3 linked regions of the Homo sapiens genome follow. The protein of the gene in region 1 purifies or fractionates together with the protein of each later gene. This does not show direct contact. Each region holds a gene or a part of one and is shown on either strand. Other genes may lie near its edges.

Region 1 (3,650 bases):
CATCATTGCATTCCAGCCTGGGCAACACAGAGGGACTCTGGTCTCTATAAAAACATAAAAATAAAAAAAATTACGACTGGGCGCAGTGGCTCACGCCTTAATCCAGGTACTTTGGGAGGCCGAGGTGGGTGGATCACAAGGTCAGGAGATCAAGACCATCCTGGCTAACATGGTGAAACCCCGTCTCTACTAAAAATACAAAAAATTAGCCAGGTGTGGTGGCGTGCACCTGTAATCCCAGCTACTCGGGAGGCTGAGGCAGGAGAATCGTGTGAACCTGGGAGGCAGAGGTTGCAGTGAGCTGAGATTGCGCCAGTGCATTCCAGCCTGGGTGACAGTGCCAGACTCCATCTCAAAATAAATAAATAAATAAATAAAATAAAATAAAAATTGGCTGGGTGCAGTGGCTCATGCCTGTAATCCCAGCACTCTGGGAGGCTGAGGCAGGTGGATTACTTGAGGTCAGGAGTTCCAGACCAGCCTGACCAAGATGGTGAAGCCCCATCTCTACTAAAAATACAAAAAAAATTAGCTGGGCATGGTGGCGTGTGCCTGTAATCTCAGCTACTCGGGAGGCTGAGGCAGGAGAATTGCTTGAACCTGGGAGGCGGAGGTTGTAGTGAGCCAAGATTGCACCACTGCACTCTAGCCTGGGCAACAGAGTGAGACTCCATCTCAAAAAAAATAATAATACTAAAATAAAATAAAAAACATTAAAATAGTTTACAAAGGTAAAGAATCCTTAAAATTATACATCTCTCCTGCTAATCTCAATTCCGTTGAACCCCTGTATAAGGACAGCCCTTATTTGTGAGGAAGATAGACGATTACCATACGGTATTTCCACTTCCTCCCAGGGCAACAGTTACCTGTCGGTACCAGAGTATTGGATCCATCTCTGCCTGTCGACCACACTCAGCACCTGTCTTGGCCTCAGAGGCCTCCTTGCTTAGGTGGCTGGCATCACTCAGCTTCACTTTAAGGCCTTCAGGGGCCTGGCCCGGGAGTTTTGAAGAGTCATCTAACTTGGGAATGATGACTGATTTGGCTGGGTCAGCCCCTGGCTCCTTGGCCTTGCCAGGTCCTGATTTCACCAGGTCTGTCAGGCTGGGGGCCTTGGTGAGAGTTGGTGGAATTGACGGCTTTTGCTTCCACTCTTCCTTGAGTGCTGCCTCCCGCTCCTTCAGGCCCATCTCTGCCTTCTTGTCCACTCCCCGCTGCTGCTGCTCTAAGCTCTGGCGTTTCTGCTGTTCTTCGTACTGCTGCCGGTAAGCCGTGTTAGTGCTCAGAAGGTGGGTGTGGTAACTCTGGTCGCTGTAGCCATAGGGGGGTACATAGGCATACTGGTTGTAGTACAGGGACTGCATGTACATATTGGGACGCTGCTGGATGACCGAGGGCTGCTGACTGGAACTGCTCAGCTCGGGCTTCTTTTCTTCACAGATATCGTTCTTCACTTTCCCTTCTATGCTCTCAGGTTCCTCATCCCTTTTTGTCTTCAGGGCCTGGCTCTCCACTCCTGCCTGGCTGCTGGGGTTCAGAGCCCCAGGGCTGGACTGTGCATAACTTGGAGAATAGTAACTCTCAAAGCCTTGGTAATATGGTGAGTCTTTGCTCTGAGGCTGAGGGGGAAAAAGAGTTTTCTTAGCCCCTTCTTTAACCAACTGTTCGGCGTCCTTTGATTTGACACTGTCTACCTTGCCCTCCCCATCCTCCCCAGCATCAGAGATGTCAGAGTATGCAGGGCTGTTGGTTTTGACTGAGCTGGCTTCAGCTCCATTCTGGGTCACCACATGTAAGGGAGTCAGGGGCTGAGTAGGGGTAGTGTTTTCAAGGCGGCTACTGCCTCCAATGGAAGGGCTGGGGGCATTGTCCGTGAAACTGTAGATCTTGTCGGCTTCAGCCTTGATGCTAGCCAGTCGGCTTTGGTGGGGGTCTGATGAGCCATTTAGGAGCCCCTCCATTTTCATCCCATCTCCTGAAGATTCCCTGAATGGGCTTTTGCCTTCCTCTGCTCGACACACCTTCCCAGGGGTCAGAGGACTTTCAAGTTCCTTTGAAGATTCCTTCTTTTTTTTGTCTTTCTTTTTCTTGTCCTTGGCTGGAGTCAAGGCAGGGTTGACTGTGAAAGGTTCTCCCATAACAGTGGGCTTGGGCTGAATGGGCTTGAGTTGGGGACTGTTGGGCATGGCTTGTGCCACTGTGGCGGTCAAGCCTGAGGAAGAGCCTGGGCTCGCTGCTGTGAAGGTGGCTGTCTGGAAGGTGTAGATTTGCTGTGGGGGGATGGCAGGGGCAATGGGACGGGCTGACTTTAGGCTCTTGGAAGGAATCTTTTCAGGTTTTAAACTAGAGGGTTTTTTACATTTTTCTTTTTCCATACACTTCCTTTCTAAAGAATCAAAGGCATCATTGCTTGTTTCATCCATCACTGAGGGTCCATCATCAGAGCCATCATTGGATAAGGCCCCAAGGTCTGTGTCCCCTTCCCCACTCAACTTTTTCTTACAGAGGCCTTTTGTGCTGAATTTGCTTGAAGGAGAAGGGCTATGGGGCTCTACAAGTCGAACTTTGGGGGTAGCTGAGCGGGCAGGGGACAAGGAACCTTTTTGTGAGACAGATGCACCGTTGCAGCTCCCAAGATCTGCATGGAGAATAGGTTCCTCTCCGTACTCACTGTCCCCATCCGCTTCCGGCTTGCTGTCATCATCTGTATGGGCATGAGCTTGGTGGTACTTAAGTCCATTGATGTGCTTGTACTTCTTGTTGCAGTTTGGGTGGGGACAGTCAATTAGGACGGGGGAGGGGCAGTTTCTGTCCAGAACAGTGGGTTCTACCTTTGTCCCAGGAAGGGGGCCAGTGGCTGAGCCCATGGAATTAGTACGGACACGCTTGCTCCCTTTGGAGTCCTCTGAGCTAGAATTCAGCTCCATGTCTGAAAGGGGTTTGTTTTTCCGCTTATTAGCTGAGGAAGGGCTGGCCTTGACATCCTCAGAAGTGCTGCTGGCAGGTGGGCGGTGCTCTGAAGAATTCTGGCTGCCCCGACGGCCTTTGCTATTGGCTCCTGCCCGGGTTTTGCTGCTGTTACTGGTCCCTTTGCTGTCAGAGGCTGTGGCTGTCTCATTGACAGGTGTATTACTGTTGGGACGCATGCGTTTGCCTCTACCCCGGCCATTGCGCATTTCCAGGTCACTGGTCGGGGAGTCACAGAACCTTGGCAAAGGATAAACACAACAGAATATTATTAAGAAGAGAAAACATCTTCAAAGCAGTTTAGCTGTAGCCTCCAGAACTGTCCAGATGGTGACTATCATTTTCAATGAATATGATTTGTTAAAAGAAATTCTGATTGTGAATTGCACTAAATGGTGAACTCCTGGGATACACGTTAGCTGCAAATTATTCCCAAACATTTACCTCTAAAACCATGCAGAATCTGTTCCGTAAGATAGTCAAGTCAACATTTCCTATATACAGCCATAGTCATGGTTTCAGAAAAGATGTTAGAGATCATACAGGAAATTGAGGCCAGGCATGCTAAATGACTTGTCCAAGGTAACATCACTGATTAATGGCAACATACAACAAGACTCTAGCTCTACTTTTAGCCCAATGCCTTTTTCTTACATACCTCACTATGAAGATATAGAAAG
Region 2 (3,650 bases), on another chromosome or scaffold:
GGTACTTAGAAAATTGTTTCCTTTTATAATCTCTGTCTCCAAATATAGACCCTGAAAGTGAGAATTTGGCATGCTGTAAGAACTCTTTTAGGCCAGTGTGGCCAGAATATAATAGCAGTAGGGGTATAAGTGGGAGGTAGGGAGAAGTTGGCAAGGGTTACCTCGTGAAGGAATTTGATTCTAAGAGTGGTAAGAAGTCACTGAAGGATCTTAAACTAGAGATTCAATTTATACTTTAAAAAGATCATTTTGGATTTTTTGTTGAGTATATTATAGTGCAGGAGTAGAACTTACAAGACCAGCTGCAGGCTGCCACTGCAATGGACTGAGATGGGCCAGAAATCGTGATATCTTGTATAGGGCAGGAACAGTACAAATGGAGAAATATAGATGACTTTGAGATGTATTTCATAGGTAGAGTGAATAGGTTAATAGGATCTGCTATGGTGAATTGGAAGGAAGAGCAAGAACCAGGGTTAAAGGGAAAGGTAAAATTAGGATGACAGATTTCTGGCTTGAGCAGTTGGGTGGTGCCATGAGTTAGGGAAGACTGGAGGAGGATAGGTTTGTGATGGTGAAATCAAGAGTTCTCTTTTAGCTACACATATCCAAGTACTAGCTCAATGTCTGGCCTGGAGAAGATAATCAGCTCTTTTGCCCACCACCAAATCTAGCTGCACATGATTTCATTTCATTTCATAATGATGTAATTATTTCAGTCATTGGAAATGGATGCAGTAAGGTCACTGAAGTCAAAAAGTTAACATAAAGTTTGGCAGGTAGCCACTAGACCAGTTTGTTTGGCATAGTATTTGGGGTGACAAAGTTGGTGCAATGTATCATAAAGTGGGGAAGGACCCTTGGGGCACTAGGATTTGTTTCTTACTTTCTTTTTTTTTTTTTTTGAGACGGAGTCTCTGTTGCCCAGGCTGGAGCGCAATGGCGCAATCTTGGCTCACTGCAACCTCTGCCTCCTGGGTTCAAGCAATTCTCCTGCCTCAGCCTCCCAAGTAGCTGGGATTATAGGCACCCGCCACCATGCCTGGCTAATATTTTTAGTAGAGACGGAGTTTCACCATGTTGGTCAGGCTCGTCTTGAACTCATGACTTTAAGCAATCCACCTGCCTCGGCCTCCCAAAGTGCTGGGATTACAGGCGTGAGCCACTATGCCCAGCTAGATCTCATTTTAAAATATGAAAGACCTTTAGATGTTCATTTATATTTGTTTCTGTTCTAGGCTCTGTACAAAATGAGCTAAGTAGCTAAGGTATGTGCATTCCAGGTCATCTGTCTTAGATAATCATACAGAAAGGAAATCATAGACTTTACAGTATATATTAAATAACTACCAGTTGACTTGCTAATGAAAGGGAAAGTTTGTATGAATTTAAAACTCTAGACCAGCACTGTTTAACAGAACTCTCTGTAATAATAGGAATGTTCTATACCTGGGATGTCCAGTGTGGTAACTGCCGCCACGTGTATCTGTTGAATGCTTGAAATGTGGCTAACGTCACTACGGAACTGAATTTTTTATTTTTTTATTTTTTTGAGACGGAGTCTTGCTCTGTCACCCAGGCTGGAGTGCAGTGGTGCAATCTTGGCTCATGGTAACCTCCGCCTCCCGGATTCAAGCAATTCTCCTGCTGCAGTCTCCCAAGTAGCTGGGACTATAGGTGCACGCTGCCACACCCAGCTAATTTTTTGTGTTTAGTAGAGACGAGGTTTCACCATGTTGCCCAGGCTGGTTGCAAACTCCTGAGCTCAGGCAATCCGCATGCCTCTGCCTCCCAGAGTGCTGGGATTACCGGCATGAGCCACCATGTCCGGCCTTTTTTTTTTTTTTTGAGACAGAGTCTCGCTCTGTTGCCCAGGCTGGGGTGCAGTGGTGTGATCTCGGCTCACTGCAACCTCCGTCTCCCGGGTTCACGCCATTCTCCTGCCTCAGCCTCCTGAGTAGCTGGGACTACAGGCACGTGCCACCACACCCTAATTTTTGTTTTTTTTAAGTAGAGATGGGGTTTTACCATGTTGGCCAAGCTGGTCTCGAACTCGTGACCTAAGGTGATCCACCCGCCTTGGCCTCCCAAAATGTTGGGTTTACAGGCGCGAGCCACTACGCCCAGCCTGAATATTTAATTCTATTTAAATTTTTTTTTTTTGGGCCGAGGTCTCTGTCACCCAGACTGAAGTACAGTGGTGCAATTTTGGCTCACTGCAACGTCCGCCTCCCAGGCTCAGTTGATCTCCCACCTCAGCCTCCCATGTAGCTGGGACCACAAGCTAATTTCTGTATTTTCAGTAGAGACGGGGTTTCACCATGTTGCCCACACTGTTGAACTTGTGGGCTCAAGTGTTCTGCCCACCTTGGCCTCCCAAAGTGCTGGGATTACAAGCCTGAGCCCTTGTGAGCCCTTGTGCCCAGTAATTTTTTTTTTTTTTTTTTTTTTGAGATGGAGTCTCGCTCTGTCTCCCAGTCTGGAGTGCAGTGGCGCAATCTCGGCTCACTGCAAGCTCCGCCTCCTGGGTTCACACCGTTCTCCTTCCTCAGTGTCCTGAGTAGCTGGGACTACAGATGCCTGCTACCATGGCTGGCTAAATTTTTGTATTTTTAGTAGAGACGGGGTTTCTCCATGTTAGCCAGGATAGTCTCGATCTGACCTCGTGATCCACCTGCCTCAATTTAAGTAGTCGTGTGTGGCTTATACCTACTGTATTGAACAGTATCTAGGCAATCAACTTGTTAGCCACTTTTCTCCATTTGTACTGTTCTTGTCCCTAAACGAGCTCTCATGATTTCTGGCCCATCTCAGTCAACTGCAGTGGCTGCCTAGCTGGTCTTCTAAATTCCACTCCTGAGCTGTAGCCTACTAAACAAAAATTGAAAGTGATCTTTTAAAAATATTAGCTTGAGCCAAATCAACTTGCTTATGGAATATATTGTCCTTTTTTTTGAGACTGGGTCTTGCCGTGTCACCCAGACTGGAGTGCAGTGGCATGATCAGAGCTGACTGTAGCCTCAACCTCCTGGGCTCAAGCAAGCCATCCTCCCACTTCAGTTTCTGGGACTGCAGGCGCATACCACCATGCCTGGCTAATTTTTGTGTTTGTTTTAGAGACGGGGTTTTGCCATATTGCCAAACTGGTCTTGAACTTCTGGGCTTAAACAATCCTCCTTCAGCCTTCCAAAGTACTGGGATTACAAGTATGAATCACTGTGCCTGGCTATATTTGTCATTTATTTATTTATTTTTTGAGACCAGCTCACTCCTGGGCTTAAGTGATCCTCCTGCTTCAGCCTCCCAAGTGCTGGGATTACAGGTGTGAATCACTGTGTCTGGCTGTATTTGTCATTTATTTATTTATTTTTGAGACCAGGTCTTGCTCTGTCACCCAGGCTGGAGTGCAGTGATGCAATCATGGCTCACTGCAGCCTTGACTTCCCGGGTTCCAGCAGTCCTCCCACCTTAGCCTCCTTAGTAGCTGGGATCACAGGTGTGTGCCACATGCCCAGCTAATTTTTGTATTTTTGGTAGAGACAGGGTTTCCTCATGTTGCCCAGGCTGGTCTTGAACTCCTGAGTTCAAGCAATCCACCTGCCTCGGCTTCCCAAAGTGGTGGTATTACAGGTGTGAGCCAGTGCACCTGG
Region 3 (4,141 bases), on another chromosome or scaffold:
TATACATACATCAGACAATTAAAAAACAAATAGTAAATCTGGGTAAAGAATATATCTCTTTTTACTATTCCTACAAATTTTCTGTGTCTAAAATTATTTCAAAATAAAATGAAAGAAAAAATAAAATGACATTTTTGAATAATTAAAAAAGAGAGTGTAAGGATTCTTGAGATTAAAATCTCAAGTTTAAAGGGTCTTGAGATTACAATTTAAAAAGTTTGAGCTCCTAAACTTATGTGATCTGCCCACCTTGGCCTCCTGTAATCCCAGCTACTAGGGAGGCTGAGGCACAAGAATCACTTGAACCTGGGAGGTGGAGGTTGCAATGAGCCGAGACTGAGCCACTGCACTCCAACCTGGGAGACAGAGCAAGATTGTGTCAAAAATCAAAACAAAAAAAAACCCCAGCAACGCTTGAGACCTGCTCCTGCAAGTATTTAACTCACAGAAAAGGAGATAGCACCAGGTAAAAATGAAGTAAAAGCTGTGTAAGCTGTGTGTTGGGCCTTGCAGAACAGGAAGCCTGAGAAAGGAGAGGTTATTTAGAATGCAGCCTCTCTTGGGGAAAACGTATATTCCAGCGATCCTCTCTACAATGGGACTTCATTCACCCTCCAAATCCTTTTTTGGAAGTTTGTGTCTTAGCTTTCCTCTGTTGTGACTTTTACTGCTCCTTCTGCTCTCGATACAGACACCATAAAATTTACCGTTCATCCAAGAACACTTTTGAGAGTAAAAAATGGAATTATTAATAATTACAGGACAATAGCCTTGCCTAGCTGCCATCTTTCTTATCCTGTCCAGTAAGTACCCCTAAGAGTAGAATTGTTGAGTCAAAGGACATGAAAACTGTTGTAGATCCTGTCCGCTCATGATTCTATCAGGAATAGGAACACCAATGATTACATTAGCCACGAGGTGATTAGGTTTCAGCAGTGCATTTCTGTATTTGATCTCCAACACATTTTGCTTTTTAAAGTTGAGTTCTGAAATTAGAGACAAGAGCAGATGGCAGTAGATTCACTCTAATTCAGGGAGTTATTAAGAAATTTTGAATTTTTTTACTATATAATTTGAAGCCTGCTTTAATGTCATCATCATAAACGGAAGGGTGGGTTGATGAGTTTACTCAGATTAGAGTGGTACAACCTTTGGGGCGGAGCCTCTGACTCTGATTGGTTGGACAATGTTTTCCAGGCAGTATAAAAACGCTGGTGTCTCTCCGCGGAAACTCCGAGAGGAGCAGAGGTCTGTAGAGGTAGAGACGTAGGCTTCGGATCTTTTAGAATTCTGCTGGAAGTCTCCAAGTCAAGGTAAGTTATACCTTCTGTTTAAGCTATTTCCAATGTCCTATTCTGTCTTTGGCTACAAACTGGTGTTTTCGAATGCCTTTAACTATTTATTTTAGAGGAGAAAGAACTAGTTTTTTCCTGTGCCAGGGAGCTTTCTTCACCTTTAACTATAACTTTGCCATTTAAATTTTTACATATGAACCTCAGGTCACTCTTTGCATGAACTTGTATTTTTATGTGTTTTCAACTACAATGGATTTAAATGGTTTTAAAATGGTTTCTTTTTATTTTCCAACATTTCTTAAAAGATTTCTGGGTTTTCGGCCGGGCGCCATGGTTCGCGCCTGCGCTTTGGGAGGCTGAGGTGGGTGGATCACGAGGTCAAGAGACCAGCCTGTCCAACATGGTGAAACCCCGTCTCTACTAAAAATACAAAACTTAGCCGGACGTGGTGGCACATGCTTGTAATCCCAGCTACTCAGGAGACCGAGGCAGGAGAATTGCTTGAACCCGGGAGGCAGAGGTTGCAGTGAGCCGAGATGGAGCCACTGCACCCCCAGCCTGGGCGACAGAGCAAGACTCCGTCTCAAAAAAAAAAAAAGACTTCACTTCGGGTTTTCACTTAAATATACTTGGCCACTTTTAGTAGTTGTGTCATAATTAGCTGAATCATTTTATTATTGTTAGATAATTCGATTGTTCCTGATCATTTGGGATGGTAGTTAACACTGAAATGAACAACTTGTGAATAAGTGTAGCATTTTTTTTCTTTTGTAAAATTGTTTTCTTAGATACATTCCAAGGTGGGTTAGGCAATTAGATTTCCAGCACCATGTTAAATTTCCCATTAAATTGAAAAAGATAACAGAATTTAAGAAAGAGGTAATCTCTGGTTGTCCGCCAGCCAGGCACCATGAGATTGGAATGCTGATCAGGACTTGGAAGACAAAGTTTTATGTGGGCAGATACCCTGTTTATTACACACGTTTGTGTTTCCAGAGTCCAGTTGAGGCCAAGAGCACAGAAGGGGCTCAATAAGTATTTGTTGGAAAGAGATTAGAGAATGTGTTCTGGGATGTAGGACAGTTCTAGTAACTCAGTCTTAGGCTGGCCTCATCGGTGTTCATCACTTCCTCTCTCTGGTAATGTTGATGCTGCTCCTCTTTCTGTCCCTCATTCTGTTACTACTGTCACCACTGAATGTGTGATTTGTGGGTTCTTGGTAAGGAGTTCTGCTAGTTACTGCTCAGTGCAGGCTCTTATTGGAGAACAGTCCTCTGTTCACATAATCTCAAAGGTGCTGTCCAGCTTTGCGAGGCTGTCTTTGGGTCATGGGTCTAGCCTGGTCCAATATGCTGTGCCCAGCATGTCAGAGACAGCTCACTCAAAGAATAATAGCCATGGTGGGAAGTCCTCTGGGAGCACCAGAGGCTCTCAAGCTTTGGGAGCAGTTGGGGTAACAGGAGGGCATCTTCCTTGTCTGGAACATCTTTTTGGTTTGTATTCAGGCATGATTATTTTGGAGAAGTTGATGACTATTATATTTTTATTCACATTAATTCAAGCCTTAATTAGTTTTCTTAGAGTGCTTTAAAGCATTTCATCTAATAACACTTTGTCCTTAAACTTGATTCTTTTATGGGCTTCTCATTTTGCAGTGGATTTTGCTGGCTTTACTCACATGTGGTAATTTTCCTGGAAATTCTGAGGATTCCTTAGAGTCACTTTTCTGTGATGATTAATGTAGAATTGGCTTTATTTTCATTATTGAATTTAGACATGAACATTCTTTTTCCTGAACTGCAGAGGATCTACAAAGAAATACTGAGTGGAGACTATACTGAGATTCTGTTAAAGACCCACTTGAATTCAGCCCCCATTAGGAGAAACTTTGGCCGGAGCAGCCAACACATCACCTGGAAGTCTTCAGACTAGGTAAGCTGCACTGTCTGAAAAGAAAGTTTCCACTGTCCTATTTCTGTCTTGTGATTATCTAGAGTTTGAAGAGTTTCGAAATCATTTTTATCACCATGACTACATTACTGTGATTCTCTAGCAATTTAGTGTCACTTTCATACACAAACTGCAGAAATATTATTTTTTTGTTATTCTTAATTTCTTAGTTAATAAATTTATTATTATTTATTAAATAATATAATTCATTTATGTATGCCAATAACTTATTTATTAATTTATATTATTTAATCTTGGATTTAGACTATTGAAGAGTGGATTGTGTACTGAGGGCTCCCAAGTGCTTCCAGAAGCCAATAAAGGATCACTTCAGTTTACTTCACGGCTAAGGAGTAACCCTTAAGAACCATGGCCAAACGCCTGCAAGCAGAGTTGTCCTGTCCAGTTTGCCTGGATTTTTTCTCCTGTTCCATTTCTCTCTCTTGTACACACGTGTTCTGCTTTGATTGCATCCAGAGGTATATACTAGAAAACCATGATTTTAGAGCGATGTGCCCCTTGTGTCGAGACGTGGTGAAGGTACCTGCTTTGGAAGAATGGCAAGTGAGCGTCCTAACACTTATGACCAAGCAGCACAATAGCCGACTTGAGCAAAGTCTGCACGTGAGGGAGGAGCTCCGGCATTTTCGGGAGGATGTGACCCTGGATGCAGCCACTGCCAGCTCCCTCCTTGTCTTCTCCAATGATCTAAGAAGCGCTCAGTGTAAGAAGATCCACCACGATCTGACAAAAGATCCCAGGCTGGCCTGTGTCCTGGGTACTCCCTGCTTCTCCTCCGGCCAACATTACTGGGAGGTTGAAGTGGGAGAGGTGAAGTCATGGTCCCTGGGCGTCTGCAAGGAGCCGGCTGACAGAAAGAGCAATGATTTATTCCC

The links.
Region 2: the proteins of ZNF609 (region 1) and KANSL3 purify together in Homo sapiens (affinity purification with mass spectrometry, with the first as the bait; one large-scale study listed by BioGRID). This does not show direct contact.
Region 3: the proteins of ZNF609 (region 1) and RFPL4B purify together in Homo sapiens (co-immunoprecipitation; one large-scale study listed by IntAct). This does not show direct contact.

What each region holds. Positions count from the first base shown.
Region 1 is NC_000015.10:64,673,476-64,677,125, reverse strand, and holds part of ZNF609 (zinc finger protein 609), read right to left. Parts: intron 3,211-3,650; coding exon 870-3,210; intron 1-869. UniProt on the Homo sapiens protein: Transcription factor, which activates RAG1, and possibly RAG2, transcription. Through the regulation of RAG1/2 expression, may regulate thymocyte maturation.
Region 2 is NC_000002.12:96,631,767-96,635,416, reverse strand, and holds part of KANSL3 (KAT8 regulatory NSL complex subunit 3), read left to right. Parts: intron 1-3,650. UniProt on the Homo sapiens protein: Non-catalytic component of the NSL histone acetyltransferase complex, a multiprotein complex that mediates histone H4 acetylation at 'Lys-5'- and 'Lys-8' (H4K5ac and H4K8ac) at transcription start sites and promotes transcription initiation.
Region 3 is NC_000006.12:112,346,095-112,350,235, forward strand, and holds the start of RFPL4B (ret finger protein-like 4B), read left to right. Parts: upstream 1-1,235; 5' UTR 1,236-1,313; intron 1,314-3,098; 5' UTR 3,099-3,227; intron 3,228-3,509; 5' UTR 3,510-3,614; coding exon 3,615-4,141.